Linked DNA regions of Homo sapiens. The protein of the gene in region 2 binds, or shares a complex with, the protein of the main gene of each other region. Links are inferred from orthologs where the notes say so. Each region holds a gene or a part of one and is shown on either strand. Other genes may lie near its edges.

Region 1 (7,019 bases), on a different chromosome or scaffold from region 2:
GGGATTATAGGAGTGAGCCACCACACCTGGCCTCGGTGATTTTTTAAAGCACCTAATTCCCTGTTTTGAACCCCTTTCTGCTTCACGTGGCTAAAACAGTATTTGCTTCTGCAATGGATCCCTAATAGACATCTGTACAATGAAATCTTATGCAGATCTGTACATAGTATATAGATTTGCATGTAAGTGAATAAAGTAGATCTATATATAGTATAACATATAAGATAATCTCCAAGATATATTAAGTGAAAAAAAAAATCATTGTGTAAAATTTGGCCCTATTTCCTTAATAAAAGGCTTCTGTAAAAATAAATACAGCTCATACAAGCATGGCAAGTTTCTGGAAGGATACATAAACTGTTTACTAATAGCTGCTTCCCTAGTAGCTGCTTCTGAGGAAGAAAATGGAGGGCTCGGCCAGACACGGTGGCTCATGCCTGTAATCCCAGCACTTTGGGAGGCCGAGGTGGGCAGATCACCTGAGGTCAGGAGTTCAAGACCAGCCTGGCCAACATGGCGAAACCCTGTCTCTACTCTATGAAAAATACAAAAATTAGCTGGGCGTGGTGACTCACACCTGTAATCCCAGCACTTTGGGAGGCAGAGGTGGGCAGATCAGCTGAGGTCAGGAGTTCAAGACCAGCCTGGCAGACATGGTGAAACCACGTCTCTACTAAAAAATATAAAATTATTAGCTGGGTGTGGTGGTGGGTGCCTGTAATCCCAGCTACTCAGGAGGCTGAGGCAGGGAGAACTGCTTGAACCCCGGAGGCGGAGGTTGCAGTGAGCAGAGATCATGCCACTGCACTCCAGCCTGGGTGACAGAACAGGACTCCATCTAAAAAATAAAAATAAAAAAGAAAGAAAGAAAAAGAAAATGGAGGGCTGGAATGTATTTCTTTTTCAATGAATTCTGTTTTACTTTTTCTTTTGCAATGTGTTTTATATATATTTATTAAAGTAAAAATAGGCCGGGCACGGTGGCTCATGCCTGTAATCCTAGCACTTTGGGAGGCCAAGGCCTTAGGCAGATTGCCTGAGCTCAGGAGTTCGAAACCAGCCTGGGCAACATGGTGAAACCTCGTCTCTACTAAAAATATAAAAAAATTAACTGGGTGTGGCAGCGTGCGCCTGTAGTCCCAGCTACTTGGGAGGCTGAGGGAGGAGAATCATTTGAACCCGGGAGGCAGAGGTTGCAGTAAGCCATGATCCCACTACTGCACTCCAGCCTGGGAAACAGAGTGAGTCTCCATCTCCAAAAAAAATAAGTAAATAAAATAAAATAATAAAGTAAAAATAAAAACAAAACTACTCAACGAAAACATCACTTATAGCAGTGTCCTTTCTCTATAAGGCAAGGTGGGGGAGGAAGACCTCTTACCACTGAAGGGGTTGTTTCCACCAAAGAACTCGTGGAACACCTTTTCAGGTTTGCCATGGAAGACGTAACCAGTTGTCCATGGGGTCTGGGATCCAAACTCCAAAGGAATCCCACCCTTCAGGCCCTCTTCTCCAAACTTGTCGTAGATGCCTCTCTTCATGGCTGTGGATGGGCATCACCTTAAGGAGGTGTCCAACTTTGGGGGCTGAGATAGGTGGAGGGGCTGGGAAGCAGGCGGATATGGAGAAAGGGAAGGGGCAGAAGCAGCCTGATCCCAAAGTGCCTGCTGTCTGGCAGTCTTTGGAATGAGACCCTAGGAGTCAGGCGTTCCATTTCATTCTGGGAGGACCTAGGTATGGCTCCTGTAGCCCAGAAGAGAGACGGGAAAGCCTTGAGTTTGCTGGGGGCAGGGTGAGAGACTGGGGGAATAACTGAGAGACTGAGGCTCAGGCAATGGCCCTGGGATTTGGCCTAACTCAGTCATCATAGCCACTGTCTTATCTGGGGTAAACGGAATCGTAGAACCTTGACATTTTAGAAGCTAAGAATTCTAGAGCCTCCAAATTTTAAAACTTCGAAATCCTAGAGTCTAAGGACCCTGAAGTCCTGAAAACTCGGGGCTGTAGAAACCTTAGTGATCTTCTAGCTGCACTTCCGCAGGAACCAGGATTAGTCTCCAGGACAATCCCCCAGGGAAAGCCCCGCAGGACGGCCCTGGGTGCCGGGGCGGGGATCACACTTTCTTCACTCTGCTGGTTTCCCTAGGAGACAGATTTCCTAATTACTCCTGGCCTTTCTCTGCCTCTTCCTACTGTTGCTGGCCCTGGGGAAATGGACACTAAGCCACTGGGAAGGACCTCTGGGAGGGACAGGTGGGCACGCCTGCCCAGCTTCAGCTTTCTTCCCCGTAGCTGCAAGCCCCTTACTCTGTTTCTCCCGGGGAAGGTCCCGTCCCCGCAGGGCATAGGGATGCGTGGGGAATGTGCCCCAGCTCCCACACTGCCTGCCAGGATGAGCGAGTCAGTGTAATCCTGGGCTCCACACCCCACGTCCTCCACCTCAGCTTGCTTCTACTGAGAAAGGCGGGTCCGTATTCTGTCTTCTCTGTGTGTCTAGATTCTAGGCAGGGAAGAAGGATGCTTCCTCGTTATTGGGCCCCCTCAGAAAACCCAACAGTCTAGAGACTTAAGGAATGATCCTAATCAAGCGGGGTGCTCAGCCCCACACCTACTCACGGTCACTCAGCACGTCGTAGGCCTCTGCTATTTGCCTGAAAATCTCTGCTGAAGACGGCTCATTTGACTTCAACGGGTGGTGCTTAAGGGCGAGTCTGCGGTACCTGGAAGAGGGAGAATTAATACAAGTCTTATCAGCTGGTCTGTTTCTGAGGGCGGACCAGAGTTCAGAGCCGGCACTCTGTTCACTCCTGCCTAGCTATAAATCCGGGGTGACTTCACCAGCTGTGGTGGCTGCGGAGGTGCACTGCTCAGCTCTTGAAGAGTAGCTGGTGCGGGGAGCACAGTTGACCGACAGTTCCAGCAGCTGCCCCCCTGGGCATCTGAGCTGAAGCAACTGCCCCTGAGCTGCCCTCAATGCTTACGTGTGGTGGGGATACCAGGGCTGGCCCATTCCTGCAAGACACAGGACTCCTCCAACGGGCAAGCTTTGCGCGAGGGCTCCCCAGAGGCTGGCTGAGCTGCTCCCCGGGCCTCGCTGCACTCTCCCTCCTTCCTCCCCTCCCTGTCTCCACTCGCAGGTGTCAGGCTGTACTGTGCGCGCCCCTGCTCCCTTCCCTTCATACTTCACGGTTTCTCCAGGTGCATTTCCTGCTCATCTAATCCTGTTTGCTTCTTAGAGGACCGGAGCAGACACACAGGCATCTTGGGAGGATGAGCTACAATTGGGTGTGCAGCGGGCATGGCTGAGGCGCTCAGTGCCCGTCCGGTTCCTGTGCCGCCCCCACCCTCTCTCTGCTCATTTTTTCCCCACTTCTGTTCCTGCCCAGTCCTCTGCTATTTGCCTGAAAATCTCTGCTGAAGACGGCTCATTTGACTTCAACGGGTGGTTAAAGGGCGAGTCTGCGGCACCTGGAGGAGGGAGGGTTGATACAAGTCGTACCAGCTGGCCTGTTTCTGAAGGGCAGACATCGCAGCGTCTGAGAATATGTATCGGCAGTGACCCGGGGTGGGGGAGAGATGGAGCGGATTGGGTGGTTTGTGGAGAGCTTAATAAAGGGACCATTCGCCCAGGTGCTGGAGGAGCGGAGGGAGACTGCCAGGGACAGCGGAGTGCAGTTTTCCCAGGCCAGGAACCCCGAGGGGTCTGTTGGAGTGTGTGGACAGGGCCCTCAGCGGAGCTGTGACCTTCTGTCAAGCGACACAGCTGACTGAAGAGACCCCATAGGAGGAGAACTGGGGAATAAAGCCGCAGCCCTGCCCTTCTCCCTCCCCATCTCCCCGCCTGATGCTCCCCTGGGCCGGCTCCATGTGGAAGGCTGAGGGCAAGGAAGCCTCCCGGAGCGCAGCAGGGCAGGAAGGGTGGGGAGTGGGTCTGGAGGGCTGCACGGGAAGCATCCAGCACAGACGCCTGTCATTCAGCCCAGGCGTGACCCCCCACCTTGCCTCCACCCGCTTTTCTAGTGCCCACACCCGCCTCGCCGCCATCCCCAGAGTTCCACAGCTTCTCTTCTTATTCCAGAGGCAGGCTTCTGTCTCTCACAGCTAAATCTCCATCCCGAACCAGACCACTTCCCTGAGCCAAAGACTACCTCCAAGTGCCTACTTGCCATCTCCTCTCCAAGGTATCATAAATTCACTGAGCCCAGACATATACTTTTTTTTTTTTTTTTTTTTGAGATGGAGTTTCTCTCTTGTTGCCCAAGCTGGAGTGCAATGGCACAATCTCTACTCACTACAACCTCTGCTTCCTGGGTTCAAGCGATTCTCCTGCCTCAGCCTCCCAAGTAGCTGGGATTACAGGCGCGAGCCACCACGCCTGGCTAATTTTTGTATTTTTAGTAGAGGCAGGGTTTCACCATGTTGGCCAGGCTGGTCTTGAACTACTGACCTCAGGTGATCCGCCCACCACAGCCTCCCAAAATGCTAGGATTACAGGCATGAGCCACAGCGCCCAGCCTTCTGAAATACTTTCTGACCAGGTCCCTCTCCTGGCATAACCCTTCACTGGTTTCCCCATTGTCTCCAGCATAAAACTCGGATGTCTCATTCTAAGATCCAAGCCCCTGCTTCTCCCTCTGGCCTCACTCACTGTTCTCTCTTGCTGCTCCCTTGACCTCTCCTGCATGACTCACCCCTCTGCAGCTCCTCCCAGCTTCTCTGGGCAATTTTTAATTCATCCTTCAACTTTCGACTCAGGTGCCAAATCCTCCAGGGCACCTTCCCTGATTGTTAGCCTCCTTTCTAGGTTAGACTCCCCTTCCCAAGTCCCCAGCACCTTTGATCCTTGTCCTCAGCAGTGCTGTGTTCCAGGTGTATATTGACTCCTCTGTCTAATAGACTGGGAGGTCCTGGAGTTGCTGCATCCAGTTCTAGCCCCAGTGCTGGGCACTGAGCAGGAGTGAGTAAATAAATGATACATGCTAAGCATCCTGCAGGACAGTCCATCTCACTGTGGCATGGCTCTGACTTTTAGGCAATGCCTCCTCTTACTGCGGACAGGAAGCTGGATCTGTGGTCCTGCAACTGCCCCTCCATCCATAAGGGTCCTGGCTGTGCCCTGGGGACCTTACAGAGAGAATATCTACCTTCAGAGACTTGAAGACAATTGTCACAGCCTTCCAAACCAGCCTTTCTCAATTATAAAGGTCACAGTCAGTTATTTTTATTTATTTATTTAGAGATAGAGTCTCACTCTGTCACCTAGGCTGGAGTGCAGTGGCGCGATCTGGGCTCACTGCATTGTCCGCCTCCCAGGTTCAAGTAGCTGGAACTACAGGTGCCCACCACCACACCTGGCTAATTTTTGTATTTTTAGTAGAGACGGGTTTTTGCCGTGTTGGCCATGCTGGTCTCAAACTCCTGGCCTCAAGTGATCTGCCCATCTCAGTCTCCTGTAATCCCAGCAATTTGGGAGGCCGAGGCAGGCAGATCACTTGAGATCAGGAGTTCGAGACCAGGCTGGCCAACATGGTGAAACCCCGTCTCTACTAAAAATAAAAAAATTAGCCGGGCACAGTGGCACACACCTGTAGTCCCAGCTACTCAGGGGGCTGAGGCAGAAGAATCACTTGAACCTAGAAGGTGGAGGTTGCAGTGAGCAGAGATCCTGCCACTGCACTCCAGCCTGGGTGGCAGAGAGAGACTCCGTTTCAAAAAAAAAAAAAAAAAAAGTAACAAGGTTTGAGAAAGGTTTAGTTTTTCATATAAATTTGAGTGGTTTCAAAATTATCCCTGCAATAACATCACTCTCATTCACCTGCTTTCCTGAGTGGGAGAGAAAGGGGTGAAATCACAGCTTGAACGCTGCAATTATGAATCCTGGGCAATTATAAACTATCATGATGTTTTTCTTCCTTATATAAGTTTAGCTCTTTTTTTTTTTGATCAATATCTAGGTGATCCCATGAGCAAGCATGTCATACATGTGACTTAGAGTTATTGCAGGGGAGAAGGGTTAAGGACTGCTTTTTGAAACCTACATAGTTCTTTTAATCACTCTATTTATTTTTATTTATTATTTATTTTTGAAATGGAGTTTTGCTCTTGTTGCTCAGGCTGGAGTACAATGACTCAATCTTGGTTCACTGCAACCTCCACCTCCCAGGTTCAAACGATTCTTCTGCCTCAGCCTCCCGCGTAGCTGGGATTACAGGTACCCGTCACCACGCCTGGCTAATTTTTTTTAGTAGAGACAGGGTTTTACCTTGTTGGCCAGGCTGGTCTTGAACTTCCGACCTCAGGAGATCCTCCTGCCTCGTCCTCCCAAAGTGCTGGGATTACAGGCATGAGCCACCGTGCCCAGCCTTATTTATTTATTTATTTATTTATTTATTTTATTTTTTTTTTTTGAGACGGAGTCTCACTCTGTTGCCCAGGCTGGAGTGCAGTGGCGCGATCTCGGCTCACTGCAAATTCCGCCTCCCAGGTTCACGCCATTCTCCTGCCTCACCCTCCCGAGTAGCTGGGACTACAGGCACCTGCTACCACGCCCGGCTATTTTTTTGTATTTTTAGTAGAGACGGGGTTTCACCATGTTATCCAGGATGGTCTTGATCTCCTGAACTCGTGATCCGCCCGCCTCAGCCTCCCAAAGTGCTGGGATTACAGGTGTGAGCCACTGCGCCCGGCCTACTTTTTTTTATTTATTTTTTTGAGACGAAGTCTCACTCTGTCACCCAGGCTGGAGTGCAATGGCACGATCTCGGCTCACTGCAACCTCTGCCTCCTGGGTTCAAGCAATTCTCCTGTCTCAGCCTCCCCAGTAGCTGGGATTACAGGCATGCGCCACTACACCTGGCTAATTTTTTGTATTTTTAATAGAGAAGTGGTTTCACCAAGTTGGCCAGGCTGGTCTCAAACTCCTGACCTCAAGTGGTCCACCTGCCTCAGCCTCCCAAAGTGCTAGGATTACAGGTGTGAGCCACTGTGTCCAGCCATTATTATTATTATTATTATTATTA
Region 2 (7,962 bases):
CTCTCGTGGTGTTACAGTTCTTAAAGATGGTGTGTCCAGAGTTTGTTCCTTCGGATGTTCAGATGTGTCCGGAGTTTCTTCCTCCCGGTGGGTTTGTGGTCTCGCTGAGTTCAGGAGTGAAGCTGCAGACCTTCACAGCGAGTGTTACAGCTCTTAAAGGTGGCGCCTCTGGAGTTGTTCGTTCCTCCCAGTGGGTTGGTGGTCTCGCTGGCTTCAGGAGTGAAGCTGCAGACCTTGGCGGTGAGTGTTACAGCTCTTAAAGGTGGTACATCCGGAGTTGTTTATTCCTCTTGTTGGGTTCGTGGTCTTGCTGGCTTCAGGAGCGAAGCGGCTGACCTTCACGGTGAGTGTTACAGTTCATAAAGGTAGTGCGGACCCAAAGAGTGAGGAGCAGCAAGATTTATTGCGGAGTGAAAGAACAAAGCCTCCACAGTGTGGAAGGGGACTCCAGCGGGTTGCCACTGCTGCCTTGAGGGGCCAGCTTTTATTCCCTTATTTGGCCTCCTCCACATCCTGCTGATTTGTCCATTTTACATAGTACTGATTGGTCCATTTTACAGAGTGCTGATTGGTCCATTTTTATAGAGTGCTGATTGGTGCGTTTACAAACCTTTTTTGGTGCGTTTTTACAGAGTGCTGATTGGTGCATTTACAAAGCTTTAGCTAGACACAGAGCGCTGATTGGTGCATTTACAAATGTTTAGCTAGACACAGAGCGCTGATTGGTGCGTTTTTACAGAGTGCTGATTGGTGTGTTTACAAACCTTTAGCTAGATACAGAGCACTGATTGGTGTGTTTACAATCCTTTAGCTAGACAGAAAAGTTCTCCAAGTCCCACCCAACCCAGAAGCCCAGCCAGCTTCACCTCTCAGTATTTTGGGATTTTATTTTTATTTTTTATTTAAAAAAATTTTTTTGAGACAGGGTCTCACTCTGTTGCTGGAGTGCAGTGGTGCAATCATGGTTCACTGCAGCCTTGACCTCCTGGGCTCAAGCAATCTTCCCACTTCAGCCTCCGGAGTAGCTGGGACTACAGGCATGTGCCACTGCACTTAGCTAATTTTTAAATTTATTATTTTTTAAATTTTTACTTACTATTATTTTTTGAGACAGGTCTCACTCTGTTGCTCAGGCTGGAGTGCAGTGGCACATTTCTTGGATAACTGAGCCTCAACTGCCCAGGTTCAAGCAATCCTTCCACCTCAGCCTCCCTAATAACTGGGTCTAGAGGTGTGTGCCACCATGCCCGGCTAATTTTTGTATTTTTTATAGAGATAGAGTTTCACCATGGTGCCCAGGCTTGTCTCAGACTCCTGGGCTCATGCAGTTCACCCACCTCAGCCTCCCAAAGTGCTGGGATTACAGGTGTGAGCCACTGTGCCTGGCCTGATATTTTTATTATAATAAAATATTTTCTTTGTTTGAAATGTTATTAATAACTTTATTTTTCTTCAGAATATCACTGAGGAGGAATTTTTAAATTTTTTGTAGATATGGGGTCTCACTAGATTGCCCAGGTTGGTCTTAAGCTCGTAGTCTCAAGCAATCCTCCCACCTCAGCCTTCCAAAATGCTGGGATTACAGGCAGGTAATCCTAGCCTATTTTGGATTTTTTTTTTTTTTTTTTTTTGAGACAGTCTTGCTCTGTCACCAGGCTGGAGTGCAGTGATGAGATCTCGGCTCACTGCAACCTCCGCCTCCCGGGTTCAAGTGATTCTCCTGCCTCAGCCTCCTGAGTAGCTGGAACCACAGGCACACGTCACCACGCCCAGCTAATTTTTGTATTTTTAGTAGAGACAGGGTTTCACTATGTTGGCCAGGATGGTCTCAATCTCTTGACCTCGTGATCCGCCTGCCTCGGCCTCCCAAAGTGCTGGGATTACAGGCTTGAACCACTGTGCTCGGCCTATTTTGGGTTTTTATAGCATAGGTCATCTAAAATGCTGTCATAAACCTGTATGGTAATAGAATGTAAAAGATCATGATAGGACCTTTGGAGAGTCACTAGTCTGTGCTGCTATAGCACAATACCACAGGCTGGATAATTTATAAATAATAGAAATCTATGTTTCTTTGTTTTGGTTCTGGAGGCTGGGAAGTGCAAGATCAAGGCATTGGTAGTTTTGGTGTGTGAGGTGGGTTACTCTCTGCTTCTGCTTCTAAGATGATGCCTTGTTGTTGTATTCTGCAGAGGGGACGAATGCTGTATCCTCACATGGCAGAAGGGACAGAAGGATAAGAGGGCACTCTCTTCGATATGGAGCCCTTTTATAAGGATGCTAATCCCATTCATGAAGGCAGAGCACTCATGAATTAATTACCTCCCAAAGGCTCCACCTCTTAATACTGTTGCACTTGGGATTAAGTTTCAACATGAATTTTGGAGGGGATACCATCATTCAAACAGCAGAGACAATGATACCATCATTCAAACAGCAGAGACAAACTTCTTTAGGAATGAGGAAACTAAAGCTCAGAGGTGCTTGGTCATGACTTGCTCGTGATCAACCAACAGTTAATAGCAGAGCTAGAACTAAGCCCCAGATTCTTACCTGCAGTTCAGTCTTCTTTCTACACTGCTGTGCCTTCTCTTATATATCTACTTTCTGTGTCTCATTAATATTGTCTTAATATTCACTTGATCCTTTTTTCATCTCCATGAAAGGAGAAAAAAATTATTCTTAGCTTTTTATTTGTGCAGTAAGAGAAGTAGATGAAATAATATATGACTATACATTGTAAACAGCAAATAACTACTGTGTGATAAACTGATGATTGGTGCTCTTTACAACTTTGATACCTGGGGCCAGCACTCCTCCTCTGATAGTAGAATATAGTGGCTTGACCTGTGGGCTCTGGAGTCAGGCTGCCTCTGAATTGGAATTCAGGCTGTGTGCCTTTCAGTGAGTACTTAACCTCTTTAGATTTCAATTTCTTCATCTGTGAAATGGAGATAATAAGGCCGGGGGCGGTGGCTCACACTTGTAATCCCAGTACTTTGGGAGGCCAAGGAAGGTGGATCCCCTGAGGCTAGGAGTTCGAGACTAGCCTGACCAACATGGTGAAACCCTATCTCTACTAAAAATACAAAAATTAGCTGGGCATGATGGCGCACGCCTGTAATCCCAGCTATTCTGGAGGCTGAGACAGGGGAATTGCTTGAACCTGGAAGGTGGAAGTTGCAGTGAGCTGAGATTGCTCCATTGCACTCCGGCCTGGGCAACAAGAGTGAAACTCCGACTCAAAAAAAAAAAAAATGAGATATTAATGATACCTACCTTACAGGTTTATTGAGAGGATTAAGTGAGTTAGTATAGAAATACAGTGTTTGGCCCATTGTAAACAGGCAAATATTAACTGCTGTTGCTATTTTATTATCTGATGAGGGTTGTTATCTTTGCTACTGTTTTCATTAAGAACTGGTTAGTTCTTCAAGAGAACGTGTTAGGTTATCATATGTTCCACATGAAGGTTTGATTTTCTTTGTTTTTTCTTGGCCACCTGCAGACCCATGGACTTAACTAGCCTGAAGAGAAATCTCTCTAAGGGTCGGATTCGCACCATGGCCCAATTCCTGCGAGACCTGATGCTGATGTTCCAAAATGCTGTAATGTACAATGACTCTGATCATCATGTATACCATATGGCTGTGGAGATGCGGCAAGAAGTCCTGGAGCAGATTCAGGTACTGTATGCAGATACCTGTAGCCTCTGGAATCTTGATTTCAGAACGCCTATGAGAATAAAGGTGATTTCGAGGTGACTGTGTTCTCAGAGTTTATTTTTAAAGGTGATTAAGGCCCTGAAGGATTGATAATGTGCCTGCTGGTTTGGAAAACCCTGAGCCTCAGTAAGTCCAGCTCTGATAGTGAAGTAGTCTAGGAATGCAGGCAGCAGTGAAGAGCTCTCAAGAGAGCTGAGGATAGACAAGTAATGGGAATTCCCGCTTCCAGAGCCTCAAGTCAAGGGCTAAACTCCAAAGAGGCTGGAGTCACTGTGTATTTTTTGGTTGCTTCATCTGTTGTTATTAATGTACGTTCACACTTTCCCATCTTTAGGGGATAAGATATAGTAGCTAGAAGACATTTGTGGGTTTCTTTTCTGGGTAGCATCATACTTTAAAGAAAAAAGTATAGTTGAGTCTATTTGCCAAAAAAATAAACTTGCAATACTTTAGTGTTTAAGGTTCATAATAGCTTGCTATGTGTTCCTTAACCCTTTAGGTACTGAATATCTGGTTAGACAAAAGAAAAGGCTCAAGTAGTCTGGAAGGAGAACCAGCTAACCCAGTGGATGATGGAAAACCTGTTTTCTAACCTGGAGCTGCTATCCTGACTTTTTCTAGAGTTTGAATCTCTCCCGGAACTCTGACCTAGAGAGGATCCTGGTACTTCTTTGCCATGTCCTCATTTTCTTTTCCAACAAGAATAATACCTTAACTCACAACCAACGAGTCAAAGATGCATGTGGACATAATATAAAGAAAAAAAGGGGAAGCTGAGGTTTGGATTTATGCCATAAATGTTGCCCACATCTTTGTTCCATCGGCTTGATTTAAAGACAATTCCATTAGATCTTTTCTAAGCCTTTTACTCTATAAATAAATGTATTTACACAATAGGAATATTGCTTTTTAATGACTAGATAAGCTGGGCATAGAGGGCACAGCATCATCTGGTGAAACGAAGGTATCTGACACGGGTCATTTACATATACCGCCTGGAAAGGAATGGTTGGGGGAGGGGTTCTTATCATTTATAGAGTAGGGATAATTGAAGCATCCTTCAAACGGGAAGAAGGATGAAATAAGATAAATTATGAGTAAAATGTCAGAAAACATCTAGTGCTCTAAGATTCACAAGGAGAATAAAAGTGACTGGCTGGCTCCCTTTGGTTAAAACGAACTGGCCAGAAGCTGCAAGGTTCCTTGCTGGGATTGGCTCTCTGCAGCCACCGTCCCCACGCTGGGGCTTCAGGTCTCCTAGCAACAAGTTGTACCATATGAGGACGGCCGCTGAGGTGAGTACTTAGAGAGGGTCAAATTCAGAATTTGCAGGTGCAACCCGGAAAGTCCCCGCGGACCTAGAGGCCCTGCTTTTCAATTAGCCTGACCCTATGCACAGAGAGGTCCCTGCGGGACAGGGTCGCTTCACAGAGGCAGCTGGCCGAGGCCGCTCACCCGCCGCTGTAATGGTGTGTGGTTGCCCACCAGCCACCGTCCCCTCGAGCCCCCACCACCCGCTCTACCGCCCCCTCGAGCCCCCACCACCCGCCCCACCGCCCTCTGCTGCCTGGGGCTGTTGCTGGTTCCAGGCCTTCGGGTCGCCCCTTGGCCTCTGGTTATGTGAGCCCATAGTCCTTCCTGCCTTGGTGACATCGTATACGAAAAGCCGGGGCTCGATTTGGACATAGTAGGAATCCTATTATTGAGACCCTGTATATAGAAAAACATGGCAGTTTCTACCTTCATCAGTTAATAAAATCAAGTACCTACTATTGCTATTCTTAATCATAATTACATTGAATTTGCGATGGGGGTGGGGGGAAATGCATGTCATTGCAGTTGATACCTGTTAAGAAACTCTTAATTTGTGCCCTGAAAAGCCATAATGGAGATATCAATGCCTCCACCTCAGATATATGTAGAAAAAACTCTGGCCATTATCAAACCAGATATTGTTGACAAAGAGGAGGAGATACAAGATATTATTCTTAGATCCGGATTCACCATTGTTCAGGTAACTTCTGGGTATGATGATTCATGCTTTTTTCCTCTCTGCCCTTAAAAAAAAAATGCTTATGTAAATGTGCCTACCCATTTAAACCCTTAGTGTTCAGCATTAAATTTAAGTTTATTCTTCTAAGTATAAAAGTTATATGTGATAGTTTTTAAAAGGATGTAAAATGAGAAATAAAATGGACTTTTCCTTCACCTGTCCTCTTTTACCCCAAGTCCCAGGCTCCAGAGAGAGGCAACCACTTAACACTTTCTGTTCTTCCAGGAGTTTTCTATGCATTTATAAACATTTTCCCCCCATAAAACAGAACAGTCCCTTTCCCTTGACCCCTTTACAGAGTCCCTCAGATAGGATTCCAGATCATTGCATCTGAATTGATCTCACTCTTCCTAATTTCTGTGTAATATTTCCCTGTGTATTAGAACTACAATTTATTTACTTGATCTTCTATTGATGGAATTTTAGGCTATTGGTACTTTTTTCAGTTATGGCATAACATTTAATGTTTTAAGCCTTATGTTCTGCAATTAGTAAACATTGTCATTCTAGGGGTTTGAAAGTGAATATAAATAGCATTGTTAAGGATAAATCAAATAGAATTGAATATTTTTAATCTTCCTCTTTTATAGTTTTTTTTTCTTTTTTTTGAGACAGAGTCTCCCTCTGTAGCCCAGACTGGAGTGCAGTGGTACGATCTCGGCTCACTGCAACCTCTGCCTTCCAGGTCCCGGTTCAAGCAATTCTCCTGCCTCAGCCTCCTGAGTAGCTGGGATTACAGGCATGCACCACCATGTCCAGCTAATGTTTGTATTTTTAGTAGAGACGGGGTTTTACCATGTTGGCCAGGGTGGTCTTGAACTCCTGACCTCGTGATCCACCCGCCTCGGCCTCCCAAAGTGCTGGGATTACAGGTGTGAGCCACTGCACCCCGCCTCTTTTACAGTATTCTCATTCGAACTTCCAATTTTTTATTTTCTCCCATTTATACAGTGTCATATTGCTTATTCAGTCAGTATTTTTAAAAATAAAGAGAAAATGGCGGGTACGGTGGCTCACGCCTGTAATCCCAGCACTTTGGGAGGCCGAGATGGGTGGATCATAAGGTCAGGAGTTTGAGACCAGCCTGGCCAATGTGGTGAAACCCCATCTCTATGAAAAATACAAAAATTAGCTGGGCGTGGTGGCGTGCACCTGTAGTCCCAGCTACTTGGGAAGCTGAGGCAGGAGAATCGCTTGAACTCAGGAGGCAGAGGTTGCAGTAAGCCAAGACTACGCCATTGTACTCCAGCCTGGGCAATAGAGGGAGATCTGTCTCAAAAAATAAATAAATAAATAAAGAGAAAATATCAATCTTCAGAAAAGATACGGAATTTCAGTTGAGCTTCAAAGGACAGGTGGAGTCCGAGAGTAGGGATGGCACAAGAAAGTGTTAGGAAGTATTTAATATGATTAAAGACTCAGGTAAATAACTTTTTAGTAAATGTTAGGAAAACTGGTAGCCACTGAAAAATTTGGATCAAGTATTATATACCAGGATAAACTCCAAATAAACCTGAGATCTACATATTAAAAAAATTAAACCATGTAAGTTCAGGAAGAAAAGATAATGGATTTATTTTGTTGTTGGAGTAGGACAGCCTTTTTTTTTTTTGTTATGACTTAAGGTCTAGGAGCCATGGAAGAAAAGATTGATAAGATTATATCAACAAGGCCAGGCACGGTGGCTCATGCCTGTAATCCCAAAACTTTGGGAGGCCAAGGTGAGTTGATCACCTGAGGTCAGGAGTTTGAGACCAGCCTGACCAACATGGAGAAACCCCATCTCTACTAAAAAATACAAAATTAGCCAGGCGTGGGGGCGCATGCCTGTAATCCCAGCTACTCAGCAGGCTGAGGCAGGAGAATCGCTTGAACATGGGAGGCGGAGGTTGCCGTGAGCCGAGATCGTGCCATTGTGCTCCAGCCTGGGCAACAAGAGCGAAACTCTCGAAAAAAAAAATTTTTTTAATTTAAAAAAAGATTATATAAACAAAAAATTTCTGCACAATGAAATAAACACCATAAGCAAAGTCAAAACACAACAAACTTGGGAAAAAGATTTGCAACTCATAGACAAAGGGCTTGTCTTCTTAATACATAAAGAGCTCCTAGAAAAAGATAAAAATAAATTAGTAGAAAAATGGGCAGAACAGATGGATGGTCACAGAAAAGGAAAAACATTTT
Region 3 (8,019 bases), about 130 Mb from region 2:
TTTATTTCAACATTTAATGTAACTGCTATTATTGTGGATTCTTGTCTTGTGTATTTTCTTTCCCTTATTCAAGTAATATAGAATAACTTTCCTTAAAATGATTTGATCCAAGATACGTCATTTCTGTATTGGCAAAATGCCACTATTAAAGTGTAATTCTTGAATTTAGGTTGAATTGATGACTTTTTAAAACAAAACAAACACTGGACAGTTCTACATTGTATTGCGTTTGCGAATGTGCGTGAACACACGCACACGTGCAGGAGAATGTAGTGCCATAAGAACACTGGCGCTTTTTAAAACTTTCCAAGCTAGCTACTTATTTTCATTTTCAGGGTTGAGTACTCTAAGCTCTCTACTTACTGTGAGAAGTTTTCTACATTGTAAAATTAAAAGATTATATTTAAAATACTTCTTTAGGATGTTATTCAGCCATCAAAAAAAAACCCAACTAAAATGTCTTACCAGTAAAGTATTATTAAAAGCCTCATTTGTGGAGATTCGCTGACTTCCTTGGTTAAGCTGTCTTGTATTTACTTAATTTGTCCCCTCAACCAGGTGTTTTCTTTTCAGCCTGTTACTGTCCTGTGCCATTTTTAAAAATAGCCATCATGAGTAAGGGCTTCTTTAAAATAATCCCTGACAATATCTTTGGCATTAATACGACATAAAGACAAGACAGTATATGTATGTTTTCATTCCTGTTTTGTACGAGTGCCTCATTTTGTAGTCATGAAAGTAACATAGTACCTTAAATAAAAATGTAATGACTAATCTAAGGTCTAGGAATAACTATTGTAGAAGCTAAGTAGAACACTTAGTTTGGGGTGTCAATTTTCTATCAACGCAAACACCTTAGGGTACCCAGACCAATTTTATGTATATATATTCTGAAATGCTCCCTTTTTAATGTGGTCATTTGTTGCCTTCTAAGTTGAGAGGACAAAACTGAATAAAGTGAATGTTAATTGTAGTCTAGTTTTTTTGTTTGTTTTTGTGTTATTGCAAGATTGCTTTAAGATTGCAGAAATATGCATTATTAGCCAGCATAGATAATCCAGATGTTATAATAGGAAGGAAAAACAACTCCAGTTAAATGTGACTGTGGCGACTCCCTTTTATGTATACATTTAAATGCATAGTTGCAGAGGACACATCCCTCCCCTTCTGTCTCCCTAACTTGAACTGTAGACCGTCCTCACTGGGAAGAGTAAGGCCCCACATTTTGTGCAATAGCAAGCTACTGCCCACTTCTGCATGTCTGCTACGAGATCAGAAAGTCAGTTTCACTAAGGTTGTCTTTTAGCTGAATACTTAGAGTAAAACCAATCAAATCCATTGTACATACCTGACCATATGTCCCAGATAAAAAGGAAAGACTTGCGTGATGTTTTTTTCCTTCTGAGTGCCCTGAGGAGATCCTTTTGCTTCAGACTATTTCTAATTTTTCTTTGTTTATAGGTTCAGAATTTTTTCCATGATTGTTTTCCCCCAAACAAGTGCATTTTTAATTACTTTAAATGCAGGGGTGATAGAGGAAATGCTATTCGAACCATAGACATCTTTAATCTGTGAAGCTGAAATTTTTCAGCAAAGGAAATTGCATGGTCAAGTTCAGAAACTGGCCATTAATTTCCCCCTTCCGCTCCACAGTTCATAGCTACTCTTGTTGCAAACATGTAGTGATAAGGAGAACTAACGTATCAAGGGGCTGAGAGGGTAACGTTCCCCTCCTCCTCCATGTTTTTATTTTGGTGTCTGTTTTGTTTCTAGCACTGTATTTAGTACTGTAGTTGAATGAGGTATGATGTCTCCCTTCAAGGAACTCAGAATGGAACAGAAGCATGAGCAAAAGATTGTATTACAGAGGTATGAATAAAATGCCATGGGGAACACAGAGAAAGGTTCACCCGGGAGAGATGGCCTAGCCACTTCCTTAGTGACTGTTTGGTATATGTAGGTCCCCCTGCCATTACTCTTTCAGCCTTCTGCAATCTAGTTCTACTTAGTCACACACTTCTCTAAGACCACTCATACGTAAACACTACGTAGAGGCCCCTTTTTGCCTCATTTTACATTGTTTAGTTATCATTTTGAAACTTTTCTTCACATATGTAACAGTGCCGGAGTTTTTCTGCTTCTCTGTGTTTGTTCAGTAACTCTTCTTTAGGATACACCTAAAGATGAGAAGCTTCATACCCAGTACTCCTCTTCATTCACTCATATGTTTTTGGGATCAGTCCCTTCTGCTGGCTGTGCATTGGTCTAATGGAACAGAATAGAGTCCAGAAATAACCCAACATGTATGTGGACAACTGGTTTTTGACAGAGGTGCAAAGGTCTTGAAAAAATGATGCTGGAATAATTGGGCATCAGATGCAAAATTAAAAACAAATTGATCCATATCTTAACACTGGCAAAGATTAAAGTCCAAATGGATTATAGTTCCCCAAAACTGTATAATTTCTAGAAGACAACAAGGAAAACGTGTTCAGCCTTGGGTTAGGAAAAGATTTCTTAAATCCAACACCAAAAGCACAATCCATGAAGGAAAAATCGATAAATTGTACTTTATCAAAATTGAGAACTTCTCTTTGAAAGGTACCATAAGGAGAACAAAAAGACAAGCTGTAGAGTGGCAGAAAAATATTTGCAAAACATTTCTGATAAATGAGTTGCATCTAGATTACATAAAGAAGTCTCAAAACTGAACAAGTAAACCCATTGTTTACTTAATCGCTGTTTCTCCTGAGCTTGCTGCCTCTGCCCCTGCTCTCTCTCCTTTTCCATTTGTTTTCAACATTGAATCCAGAATGTTCTTCTTGAGATCCAAGTCAGATCACACCAACCCTCAGAACTCTCCAATAGACGACCATGGCACTCAAAAGTCCACAATAGCCTTCAATGCTGGGCAAAACATGAAGCACCCCTTTTCTCCCTTCTCTGACCCCATCACCTCTGTGTTCACCCTGCTCCTGCCGTCCTCCCTGCCTCCAAAACAGGTCAGGCCTTCGTGCCTTTGCACTTACTATTTGCAATACCCAAATGTTCTTCAGGCTCTTTAGCCTCTTCATTTCTTTCCTGAAGTGTCATTCTCACTGAGGCTTATCTAAAGCTGCAGCTACTGGGGCATTCCTGTCTCATCTCCCTGCTGTATTTTGTACTCCCGGCTCTCTTTTGTACTTTTAAACATACTATATGGTTTACCTTTGTTGTTTATATTTGCATGTTGTTTCCCACTTGAATGTAAGCTCCAAAGATTTTATTTTTTTAAACTGAATTATTACTGTATTCCCAGAACAATTCCCTGGCAAATATTTGGTACTCAATAGTAATGCTAAGTTAGTAAATAAATGATGAATTTAGAATCAAAATAATGTGTCTATGGCCAAAATAAAACCTGAAATCCCTGTCCTATTTCCCAGAGGTAACTGCTGTTAATAGTTTAGTTGTGTGCTTCCAGACATACCTTCACAGAATCATTTATCACAATAAAGGTGTCATACTATGCAGATTGTTTGACAAGATGCTTTTTTTCACTTTACACGGGCATCTTTTCATACCATTGTGTGGCCAGGCCATGATTTGTTTTCCAAAAGACATTTACCCAATTTATATGGTGAAGATTTTTGTCCATATTACTTTTTATAGTATTTCTGTAGGGTAAGTTCCCAGAAGTAATATTGCACGATCATCGAAAAATTTTAGTGTTACATTACTGCCCCATAAAGGTACTAATTAACATCCCTCTCAACAACATAGAAGATTCCTTTTTTTTTTTTTCTTTTTTTGGGTGGAGGGGGGCGGGGACAGAGTCTTACTCTGTCGCCCAGGCTGGAGTGCAGTGGTGCCATTTCTGCTCACGGCAACCTCCACCTCCCGGGCTCAAGCTATTCTCCTGCCTCAGCCTCCCAAGTAGCTGGGAATACAGGCACGCGCCACTACGCCCAGCCAATTTTTGTAGAGAAGGGGGTTTCACCATGTTAGCCAGGCTAGTCTCGAACTCCTGACCTTGTGATCAGTGCTGGGGTTACAGGCGTGACCCACCGCGCCCGGACGGATTTCTTGTTTTCATACTGTCATCAACTTTAAATACAAGTATTTTCAGTTTTTGCCAATGCTGTTAATTTAGAAATGTGTATGTATATATTGTCTGGTGGGTGTTTGGATGGAAACGATCAAAATCGGGCAACTTCCCCAGTTTCCTTGAAGGGAGTGCTTGCCATCGGCCCCTCTGGGAAGTAGCTCTCCGTAGTTCTCCATCTTCCTGTTTTGAGGAACGCAGGAGGAGGTGGATCTGGAGTCTCATCCATTCGGTGGCTGTTAACGGCAACTGCAGCAGCCAGCCAGGTCACCCCCTAAAGCAAAGTTAACCCCTTGCATGGTGCCTTGGTCAGCACCCACCAAATTCGAGGTTTCTCCTATCCTTCGACTCGAGGCTCTTTTGACAGATGTGATTTATTTCCTCCTAGAGCCAGTCACATTGGCTCAAGCAACCTATCGTAAGAAAACAAATACAATAGTGTTTTAGCTGGAAACTGCCCACTGTCTAAGCGGCTTTTTAAATTAAGAACTCAGGTTCACTACGGGATGGCTTAGGCCAGGGAACAGCATGTGCGAAGTTCGAAGCCCGAGAAGTTTGGAGGAGCGGCCCCAGGCGCAGGCGGGTCCCGCAGCGGGGCCCGTGCCGCCCAGGCGATCAGCCCCTTCACTTAACCCGCTTCCCTCCTAGCAGGCCCGAGTCCCCTAGCCTCAGCCTCACGCAGCCAGAGCAAGGGGAAGAGGGAGTCCTTCGTGAGTTCGCCGCTCACATTCGGCGGTGGGAAACCGATCCGAAGATGCTTTTGTAGGCGAAACGCTCAGCTCGCGCGGCTCTGAACCACCGGGGAGCAGCGGCTGCTGCTAGTCGGACTACGCCAGCACCTCCTTGTCCAGCCCGGGAGCAGCCCCGCCTCGCTCAGGGCCGCGTGCGCGTGCGCGGCTCCAGGGGCGGGGCCTGCTCGCGTCCCGGGTGCCTGGATACCGAGCGCGTCCGTAGTGGCGGCTGGCGCTAGGGAACTGCAGGGTCTAGGGTGTTGTCGGAGTGGCAGTTGGTCCGAATTTCTCCCGAAGCCCGCGGAGGAGCGGGTAAGAGCCCCGCGAATCCGGCCCCAACCTCGGGAACGGGATGGGAGGCGGCCCTGGCCGCAAGCCCCGCGCTGCTAGCGGGTCCACCGCGTCGTAGCCGACAGCCGCCCTTCTTCCTCGCAGCGCGCCGCGATTCACCAGCCTGGTCCCTTCTGCGGAGAGCGATGCCGCTTCCCGACACCATGTTCTGCGCTCAGCAGATCCACATTCCCCCGGAGCTGCCGGACATCCTGAAGCAATTCACCAAGGCTGCCATCCGCACCCAGCCGGCCGACGTGCTGCGGTGGTCCGCGGGGTAAGCGCCCTTGGCCCGGGGAGCTGTCCGGTCTACATGCCCAAGCCAGACGAGCCCAGAGAGCCCTCCTCCCGGACCAGGGGCCTTACGCGGCACTCAGCGTCCTTAAGAGTATCAGGCAAAACTTTCCCCTTAGCATTGGTGACATCTATACTTGAGTGTTTTATCTAGGAACCATTTCGATTTATCGACTATGAGACCCGAAATCATTGCAAAATGCTCACTTACCTACAACGTAATGGCAACTCAATTGTTTAAAAGTGTTTATGATGAAGATAGACTAAAACTTAACAAAGTAATTGCATTGGGCAAAAAAGTGTTTACATTATGTTAAAAAAATTACACGGTTGCAGTCACTTTGTGAAATGACTTTACAAAGAGGAATATTTTAGCTAAGTTCCTCATCTGCAGAGAGTCCTCTCAGAGCTATGTATACCCAGAGCTGGTTAAATTTATTAGAACCGGAACGACCGTGGTCATACTGAGGTCATCATCCCTAGAGTGCTCAGGGTAAACTGTCCAGCAAATGAAGCTTCACAGTTTATTTTTTGCCACAAACATTCCAACACTTGCCAGGAACAGACATTCATAATCTCAAAGTTACAAGTCAACAGATCTTAGAGGCATTAAAAGAAATCCTCTTGGTTTTACAGGAGAGCTCTTTGCCCCTTTTCAATAAACAGATGTAAAACAAAAACTCACTTTTATGATGACAAGAGTCAGCACAGGTGTAAATTTAATTTAAATATTTTAGTCATCAACATTTCAAATTTTGGCTGGGCTTGGTGGTTCATGCCTGTAATCCCAGCACTTTGGGAGGCCAAGCTGGGAGGATCACTTGAGCCCAAGAGTTTGAGACCAGCCTGGGTAACACAGCAAGACCCCATCTGTATTTTTTTTAATAAGAAAACTAATTTAAAAAGAAAAAAAACAGCCAAATTTTGCTGGCTTTAAACTCTATAACCAAAGTGAATTAGTTTCGTTTGGCTGCTGTAACAAATCACCACAAAACTTGACAGCTTAAAACACAGACATACATTTGGGCCGGGCGCGGTGGCTCACGCCTGTAATCCCAGCACTTTGGGAGGCCGAGGCGGGTGGATCATGAGGTCAGGAGATCGAGACCATCCTGGCTAACAAGGTGAAACCCCGTCTCTACTAAAAATACAAAAAATTAGCCGGGCGCGGTGGCGGGCGCCTGTAGTCCCAGCTACTCGGGAGGCTGAGGCAGGAGAATGGCGTGAACCCGGGAAGCGGAGCTTGCAGTGAGCCGAGATTGCGCCACTGCAGTCCGCAGTCCGGCCCGGGCGACAGAGCGAGACTCCGTCTCAAAAAAAAAAAAAACACAGACATACATTCTTGCAGTTCTGGAGGCCAGAAGTCCAAATTAGTTTCACTAGGCTAAAATCAAGGTGTTGACAGGGCTTTGCTCTTTCCAGTGGTTCTCAGGAAAACCCAGCTCGTTTCCTTGCCTTTTCTGGCTTCTAGAGCTGCATTTCTTGGACGCCTTGGCTCATGTCCCCTTCCTCCATTTTCAAGGCCAGCATCTTCAAATCTCCCTCTGCCTCCTTCTTCCAAGGACACTGGTGATTGCATTCAGTGGCCATCCAGATAGTCCAGGGCAGTTTTCCCACCCGAGATCCTTATCAGTCCACAAAATCCCTGTTACCATGTAAAGTAACATTCCCAGGTTCCTGGAACATGGACCTGGATACCTTTGGGGCTGTTATTTTACCCACCAACTGAGCTACTTGTCCATCCAGTGCTTGCCTTCTGAGAAATGCTTTTATCAATGGTTTCTGAAAGACTCTTTCAAAGTTCTTGCTAAAGAAATATAGCCTCTGGTTTTAACCATTATTCAAGCTTAAATAAAAGGATTTATAAGAGTTTGTGCTGTACAAAAAATTCCAAGATTTAGCAACATCTTCTTGGAACATTAAACTATATTTAGTAATACCTTAGAGATAGTTATGTTAAGCTTCACTTTGTTTATTTATTTATTTATTTTTGAGACGGAGTTTCACTCTTGTTGCCCAGGCTGGAGTGCAATGGCGAGATCTCGGCTCACGGCAACCTCTGCCTCCCGGGTTCAAGCGATTCTCCTGCCTCAGCCTCCCAAGTAACTGGGATTACAGGCACTTGCCACCACACCCGGCTAATTTTTGTATTTTTAGTAGAGATGGGGTTTCACCATGTTGGCCAGGCTAGTCTCGAACTCCTGACCTCAGGTGATCTATCCACTTGGGCCTCCCAAAGTGCTGGGATTACCAGTGTAAGCCACCGCACCTGGCCTAAACTTCACTTTAAGAGGCTTAATCAGGCTGGGCATGGTGGCTCACACCTGTAATCCCAGAGTTTGGGAGGCCAAGGCTGATGAATCACCTGAGGTCAGGAGTTCGAGACCAACCTGACCAACATGGTGAAACCCCATCTCTACTAAAAATACAAAAATTAGCTTGGTGTGGTGGCACGCATCTGTAGTCCCAGTTACATGGGAGGCTGAGGCAGGAGAATTGTTTGAAACCGGGAAGCAGAGGTTGCAGTGAGCCAAGATCGTGCCACTGCACTCCAGCCTGGATGATAGAGCAAGACTCCAT
Region 4 (6,937 bases), on a different chromosome or scaffold from region 2:
GTATGGGGAGAAACCCCCACACCTTTGGTCCCGGAAGTCGTATGTTGATGATTGTTGTGGTGGTAGTGTAAGAGCTGAAGAAAAACCCAGTCTGAGAGGAGGGTTTTCCTAAAACATTTCCACAGACTGATGTTTGTACCTCAATTATGGTCCATTTTGCTACTACCTGTATCAAGGTAAATTATCTCTGTATTATCCACACATTATATATTATCAGCCCTGCTAGGTGGCTGTGTATCTCCACAGCATCTGGAACCAACTATGGTCTTGATAATAATACCAGTTATTATCATAATGATGAAGTTAGTAGCTGAGCCTACTAGAAAGCAGGCATCCTGACCCCCAGGACAGTGCCCTCTTCCCTGCACCACCCTCTGACCCAGTGAGCTACCAGGTAGAGGTTCTTCAGCTTAGGAAGATTGATTCCCAGGGTGCTTTCCAGCTGGTTCCCCCGAAGCTCCACTGTGTGCAGGCTGATCAACTTCTCGGGGTCCAGACCTGTCACCATGTGGATGCTGTTCCCTGGGGAGGAGGGTTTCAAGAGCTCAAAGGGCCACTCCAAATGCTCAGCATTAGAGCCTGAATTTGGGGAGCCTCTAAATCATCCTACCATTCGCAAAGCAGGGTAGATACTGAGGAAGGCCAGCTCCAGACTTAATACCTCTGGAGCCCTGAGGCAAGTGGTGTGGTAGGTAGTCCAAGGTCCTGATGGACATATCCACCTAAGCCTTTGAAGAGTGAATGAAGCAGCTGACATGTCTAATTCCCTCTCCTTCTTCAATTCTTTGCTCAAATGTCATCTTCTCAGTGATGGTTGTCCTAACCAATCTATTTGACATTGCCACCTGTGTCCCCCATTCCTCTTACTCTGATCTATTTTTTCCAAGGCACTTGTCTCCTTTTAACATGCTACATGAATGTACTTACTGTGTTTGTTGTTACTTGTTTGTCTCTCCCAATTAGAATATAAGCTATATGAGAATAGGGACGTTCCTTGTCTTATTGGATCCTATATGGTTAGCATGTAGAACTGTCATAATGAATCATATTGCGTATCTGAATGAATGAATGAATGCAGACTGCCATGTGCCCTAGCCAAGGACCATACTGCCCACTTCTGTTGGCCTCAGGCTAGGAAGGAAAGAATCTTGTGTAGCCCATCCTAAAGACCCACCTTTGAGATTCAGGGTTTCAAGACGAGGATGAGAGATGCCTTCAGTGTCAGTAATCTGGTTATAAGCAAAACTAGCAATCTGCAGGTAGGGCAGTTCATTCATCTGGGCACTTCGCAGCCGATTGCCATCAGCCTTGAGCCAGAGCAGGTGGGTGAGGTAGTTGAGTGGAGACAGGTCTGTCAGGTGGTTCTCAGAAATATCCACATAGCGCAGATGGATGTAGGAGCGCAGCAAGTAGATGTCTGTCAGGTCCCTAGGAGATGGAAGAGGGAGAAGAAACCAGGTTTAGGGTTAAGCACCCAGTGAGGACTGGCAGAGTTGCTAAAGCAGAAGGCAATATGGAGATGGCTTATAATGGGGAGAAGAATGGGCAACAGATGGTAGGGGAGAAGAAGGGTAAGAGAAGGTAGGTGGGTTCTTAACAGTGGGCAGAGAGACCTGTGTCTGTGAAGGACAGAGAACCCATACTCTGAAAGACAAATAAGGGAATCCAGCAGGAATCCCCCCATATACTCTCAATCTCCAATTCCCCAGGTCAGCTTTGATAGGAGAAGTCTCAGAGCTCCTGAAAAGTAAATTCTGTCCTTCCCTTTCCACTAGGCATGAGAAGAGTCAAACTCTCAACCAGAACACCCAGGAATGACAGTGGGAAAGGAGATAGGGGCCCTACAGTCTCACAGTCCTCATCTGGTCCCCCCAAAACGCACCTCTCTTTAACCTCCAGCTTGACATAAGCATGAGCCAGCCCATTGCCTGTCTTACAGAGCAGAGAAAGCCCTTCCTTCATCATGTCCTCCGTGAGGGGGGTGGGCAGCCACTGCAGGTAGAAGTGGAGTAAGGTGTCTCTCCCCTGCCCAACCCCCTCCTTCAGCCCTAGGACCCCTCCTTGTCCAGGCTCTCACTTCCTCAGGGAACTCTTCCCCCTCTTTTCTGTAGTCCTCCCCCTCCTCTGTCTCCTTCTCGTCCTCTTCTTTCTCAGAATCATCCTGGTCTGGCTCAGAGTCTTCTAGATCATCTTCATCTGACATCTTTCTTCCCTCCTGAAAGCTCTGGAGTCAGATAAGCTCAGTCCTCCTCCTGAAAAAGAAGGTCTCATCAGCTTCTGCCAGCCTTCAGCTCCTTCATCGTCATTGACACGTGCCACTCCCATCACCCCCATGACTTCTGACCCACCAACTCTAGGCTTCTTTCCTTATCCCTGTGAACATCTCATTTTGATTCTCAACTCCCACTTCACACTTTCCACTGAGGACCCCCTCCCTTCAGGATGTCACCCACACCCCCAGGCCTTTCCTGTCCTTCACAGTGACTCCAGCTCTCCTCCAGCAGCCGGGTGTCCCTATTTCCTGGGCTTCCCTCTCCCCCATTCTTCCCACCTCCCCCTTAAGCCATGCTCTCCAATCTTCCCTACCAATTCCTCCTCCTCTCCTCTCAGCTCCCATTGCGCCATCCGTAATCCCTGCTCCATTCATTTCTTCTACTTTTCCCTCCCCACTGGGCCAATTTCCTTGGGCCCTCTGGTACACCAGCCTAAAGCGCAGTCTCCAACCCTCCCACTCAATTCGCCTTAGCAAAGGGGCTCAGACCCTGTTTCTGCTCAATCAGAAGCAGTTCTGGAGAGGCCCTTGGTCCCGAGAGGGAAGGACTGTTTAGCAAGCGGGCGAGGGGAAGGAGGGGTTGTGTACTGCTGTTATGGCAACGGGGACGGGGCACTTGGCAACTGCAGCTCGCCACCGTTGAGAGTAGAGCGGCGACTACCTGATGCGCAAATCAGCCGGGGAGGGGATTGATCAGTAGTTGCCTGGTTACCACGCCACTTTCCCGTCCCGGGAACCCGGATGAGGCGCGGAAGGGGCGTTGGGCCGCTAATTGGCTGAGGACAAAAAGAAGTGGGCAGGGCTGAGAAGCGAGAAGAGAGGGGGCGGGGCTAGTCATTACGTCACCCAAGACCTTAAAGGGACCGGACATCTTCAATGCAAAAGTATTGTGAATTCAGGAAAAACTCGTCCTTCGAAGCAAAAAGGGCGGGGCTGCGAGGAAAAGCAAGAAACACCAAGATAAGGGGTCTTTTCCCCTTCCCCCTATAGTTTCTGCTCATTAGTTATTTTCAGGTAGACCTTTGGAAGGTGGCTTGGTGGAGCGGAAGGAGTCCAGACCCAGATACCTTAAGAACTGGGTTGGAGTCTTGGCAGATCTGCATTTGCTAGCTAAACGTACCCAAGACTCTTTGTTATCTGTAGAATTAGCTTAACTATATCAACTGACAGGGATCCAGTATGAGTTATCCTGGACTGGTTTGATGCAAACCTTTTAGTGGGTGGAAGGCAGAAAATTCAACATCTGCCCACTAAAATACTCCTGATCCAACGTTGTTATATCAGTAATCAACAGGAACTGGCATAGCCAAACCCAGGCACTCAGGCCTGTCTGACATGTTGAAGGAGATGAAAAAGATGTTGAGATGCAATAAATATTTCTGGAGAGTTTGTGCGAGACATTATGTCAAACATCTTTACAACTGATATTTAATCTCTGCAACAGTCCTGTAAGATAGACATTTGAAAGAAGAGGATACTGAGGCTCAGGGAGGTTAAGATGACACAATTCCTGCCTGGGGAAAGGGGGATGTTACCAATCTTGTTGTGGAATCTAATGTAAATGAAACAATGAGGTAACCAGGTAAGATGGCATGTGATTCATTGTTAAATTGTGCCCACAGACTTTATATAACGGCAAAGTGGTCTGGTGGAAGATGTGGTGGGCAAGAAATCAGGAAGTATTATATTACCTCCTGCCCAGGGCAGCTTGGAGGAATGTGGTTAATAGGCAAATCTGTTTACTTGGTGTCATGGAACCAGTAGGGACTTTAAAGTCAGAGACACCAGCTTCAAAACCCATCTCTACTACTTAATACCTGTGTGTCCTTCAGCAGGTTATGAAATCTTACTGAGGTCTAATTTCCACAGTCGTGAAATGGGGATTATTAAAACGTCCACCTGTAAGGATTGTTAAGGGATTAAAAGAGATAATGTGGGTAAATCGCCTTGCACTTAGTTGACCCTTAGTAAACATTTTCCTGCTCCTCCCCACCCCTGGCCTGTGTCCTTGGTACTGGGGTTGCTGTGAGGAAAAAGAAATAATAAATATGAACACTCTGAAGAGTGAGATGTGCTATACAAATGAAAGTTATTGTATTGTTGGAGTGTGGAGAAGGGAAAAATCCATGTGGTTTGATGTAGTCAAAAGAAATGGATATGAGTTTCCTTGGCCAAGAAGAAAGAGGAAGACACATTAGATGGGAAGAAAAGTTGTGATGTAAGGGTTAGGAAGGTGTCCTTGAACATACACTTTTGTTATTTTGTTTTTATTTTTGTTTTGAAATAGAGTTTCCCTCTGTCGCCCAGGATGGAGTGCGGTGGAGCAATCATAGCTCACTGCAACGTCCACCTCCTGGGCTCAAGCAGTCCTTCCGTCTCAGCCTCCTGGGTACCTGGGACTACAGGTGTGCGCCACCATGCCAAGTTAATTTTTTTGTATTTTTTGTAGAGACAAGGTTTTGCTATGTTGCCCAGGCTAGTCTCAAACTCCTGGGCTCAAGCAATCCGCCCGCCTCGGCCTTCCAAAGTGCTGGGATTATAGGCATGAGCCACTGCGCCCTGCCATGCTTTTGTTAAGCACTTAATCTGTCCCTGTGCTCCGGGACAGTAAAGCACAGAAGTCCTTATCTTTTATCTTCAAGAGGTGTACAGTTCAGTGACAAGATTAAGTACACAAGTAATTCAATATAATGAGACATGTTATAATAATCATACCCAACATTTATAGAGCTTTTACTAAGTGCTAGGGATCATTGTATAGTATATGCATATACATGATATCATATATTCGGGGCAGAGATTTCAGAGGCAGGAATCACCTGTGGTAATGCTTGGAGAAGAAAGAGCTCAATGCCTGTGCAAAGAAAGCAGGTGGTTCTGCTGGCTGGAACAGTAGGTGCAGTCGGGGGTTGGAATATGGTAGAAGCAGTAAACAGACTTGGATCACACTGAAGGATCTGGACTTTATCCTGAAAGCTGTGGGGAGCTATTGAAGGTTTTATTTCGTGTTTAGTTGGCAAGGACTGAAGTTACACTGTGTAATGAGAGCTAGATACTCCACAACATCCTTGATATTTTTCCCCCATCGGCTGGTCTAGATAGAGTCTCTTTCAATTATAAAAGTAATATTTAGGCTGGGCGTGGTGGCTCACGCCTGTAATCCCAGCATTTTGGGAGGCCTAGGCGGGTGGATCACCTGAGGTCAGGAGTTTGAGACCAGTCTGGCCAATATGGTGAAACCCCGTCTCTACATACAAAAAATTAGCTGGGGTGGTGGCTCGCACCTGTAATCCCAGCTACTCGGGAGGCTGAGACAGCAGAATCGCTTTAATACAGGAGGCCTAGGTTGCAGTGAGCTGAGATCGCGCCACTGCACTCCAGCCTGGGCAACAAGAGTGAAACTCCGTCTCAAAAAAAGAAAAAAAATTAGCCAGGCGTTGTGGCTTGTGCCTGTAGTTTCAGCTACTTGGGAGGCTGAGACACGAGAATCACTTGAACCCGGGAGGCAGAGGTTGCAGTGAGCCGAGATCACGCTACTGCACTCCAGCCTGGGCAACAGATCGAGACTCTGTCTAAAAAAAAAAAAAAGCCAGGCGCTTTGGCTCACACCTATCATCTCAGCACTCTGGGAGGCCAAGGTGGGCGGATCACCTGAGGTCAGGAGTTTAACACCAGCCTGGCCAACATGGCGAAACCCTGTCTCTACTGAAAATACAAAAATTCGCCGGGCGTGGTGGCGGGCGTTTGTTATCCCAGCTACTCCGGAGGCGGAGGCAGGAGAATCGCTTGAACCTGGGAGGCGGAGATTGCAGTGTGCTGACATCGCACCACTGCACTCCAGCCTGGGCAACAGAGTGAGACTCGGTCTCAAAAAAAAAGAAAAAAAGATTTTTAGATTAGTTTAGGGTTTTTTTCTTCTAATTATTCAATTCTAATATGTCTTGGGCTTCTTTCATGTCACTAAGCATAAATCTACCTCTTTTTCTCATAGTTGTCTAGTCTTCCATTATGTGGATATACTACCACTTTCCTTTCTTTCTTGCGTTTTTCCTTTTTTTTTTTTTTTTTTTGGTGTTGTTTTTTTTTTTTTTGAGATGGAGTCTGGCTCTCTCTCCCAGGCTGGAGTGCAGTGGCGTGATCTCGGCTCACTGCAAGCTCTACCTCCCGGGTTCACGCCATTCTCCTGCCTCAGCCTCCAGAGTAGCTGGGACTACAGGCGCCCACCACCACACCTGGCTAATTTTTTGTATTTTTAGTAGAGACGGGGTTTCACTGTGTTAGCCAGGATCGTCTCGATCTCCTGACCTCGTGATCTGCCCTCCTCGGCCTCCCAAAGTGCTGGGATTACAGGCGTGAGCCACCGCGCCCGGAACTTTCTTGTGTTTTTCTAGAGACAGAGTCTCACTACATTGTCCAGGCTGAGAGGCAGGAGAATAGGGTCCGGAGGCAGGGAATCTAAGGCCGAATCATGCTGACTGAATATCAGAGAGTACTCCCTTTTCAAACCCTCCTTTCTCTGTATGGCATTTGAAAAATGAAAGTACGTCTGATTGGTCCCCTCTCACAACCAGTCAGACTGATAGCAGGCCTACTCTCTTCATTTTGATTGGTCCCCTCCCACAATTAGACTGGCAGTCGGCCACTACTTCATTTGCATAGGGTGAA

The links.
Region 1: the proteins of NME5 (region 2) and DNAJB13 are in contact, whole or in part, in a cryo-EM structure (PDB 8WZB), measured with the Mus musculus proteins. The link is inferred for Homo sapiens from one-to-one orthologs. Residues at the interface, in NP_542368.2 of Mus musculus: Glu52, His53, Asn56, Met193, Lys199, Pro200, Lys201, Leu202, Cys203, His204, Phe205; in NP_705755.2 of Mus musculus: Thr156, Lys157, Lys158, Thr181, Ile182, Asp183, Arg185, Trp188, Arg189, Gly191, Thr192, Arg193, Ile194, Thr195, Phe196, Glu197, Pro281.
Region 3: NME5 (region 2) and ROPN1L share a complex: the UniProt entries of both Homo sapiens proteins name them as parts of the axonemal radial spoke complex.
Region 4: NME5 (region 2) and LRRC23 share a complex: the UniProt entries of both Homo sapiens proteins name them as parts of the axonemal radial spoke complex.

What each region holds. Positions count from the first base shown.
Region 1 is NC_000011.10:73,954,018-73,961,036, reverse strand, and holds part of DNAJB13 (dnaJ homolog subfamily B member 13), read right to left. Parts: intron 5,125-7,019; exon of another isoform or gene 5,005-5,124; coding exon of another isoform or gene 4,835-5,004; intron 3,469-4,834; exon of another isoform or gene 3,183-3,468; intron 2,721-3,182; coding exon 2,617-2,720; exon of another isoform or gene 2,613-2,616; intron 2,501-2,612; exon of another isoform or gene 2,308-2,500; intron 2,143-2,307; exon of another isoform or gene 2,012-2,142; intron 1,544-2,011; coding exon 1,382-1,543; intron 1-1,381. UniProt on the Homo sapiens protein: Functions as part of axonemal radial spoke complexes that play an important part in the motility of sperm and cilia.
Region 2 is NC_000005.10:138,136,429-138,144,390, reverse strand, and holds the start of NME5 (nucleoside diphosphate kinase homolog 5), read left to right. Parts: upstream 1-4,962; 5' UTR 4,963-5,002; coding exon of another isoform or gene 5,003-5,020; exon of another isoform or gene 5,021-5,487; intron 5,488-5,605; 5' UTR 5,606-5,610; coding exon 5,611-5,739; intron 5,740-7,962. Other genes in the region: BRD8 (bromodomain-containing protein 8), read left to right, coding at 3,509-3,686, 4,225-4,317. UniProt on the Homo sapiens protein: Functions as part of axonemal radial spoke complexes that play an important part in the motility of sperm and cilia. Does not seem to have nucleoside diphosphate kinase (NDPK) activity.
Region 3 is NC_000005.10:10,436,877-10,444,895, forward strand, and holds the start of ROPN1L (ropporin-1-like protein), read left to right. Parts: upstream 1-5,002; 5' UTR 5,003-5,291; coding exon 5,292-5,422; intron 5,423-8,019. UniProt on the Homo sapiens protein: Functions as part of axonemal radial spoke complexes that play an important part in the motility of sperm and cilia. Important for male fertility.
Region 4 is NC_000012.12:6,900,900-6,907,836, reverse strand, and holds the start of LRRC23 (leucine-rich repeat-containing protein 23), read right to left. Parts: upstream 3,016-6,937; 5' UTR 2,762-3,015; intron 2,253-2,761; 5' UTR 2,204-2,252; coding exon 2,078-2,203; intron 1,993-2,077; coding exon 1,883-1,992; intron 1,429-1,882; coding exon 1,175-1,428; intron 523-1,174; coding exon 392-522; intron 1-391. UniProt on the Homo sapiens protein: Essential for sperm motility and male fertility. Plays an important role in the proper assembly of the third radial spoke (RS3) head and the bridge structure between RS2 and RS3 in the sperm flagella.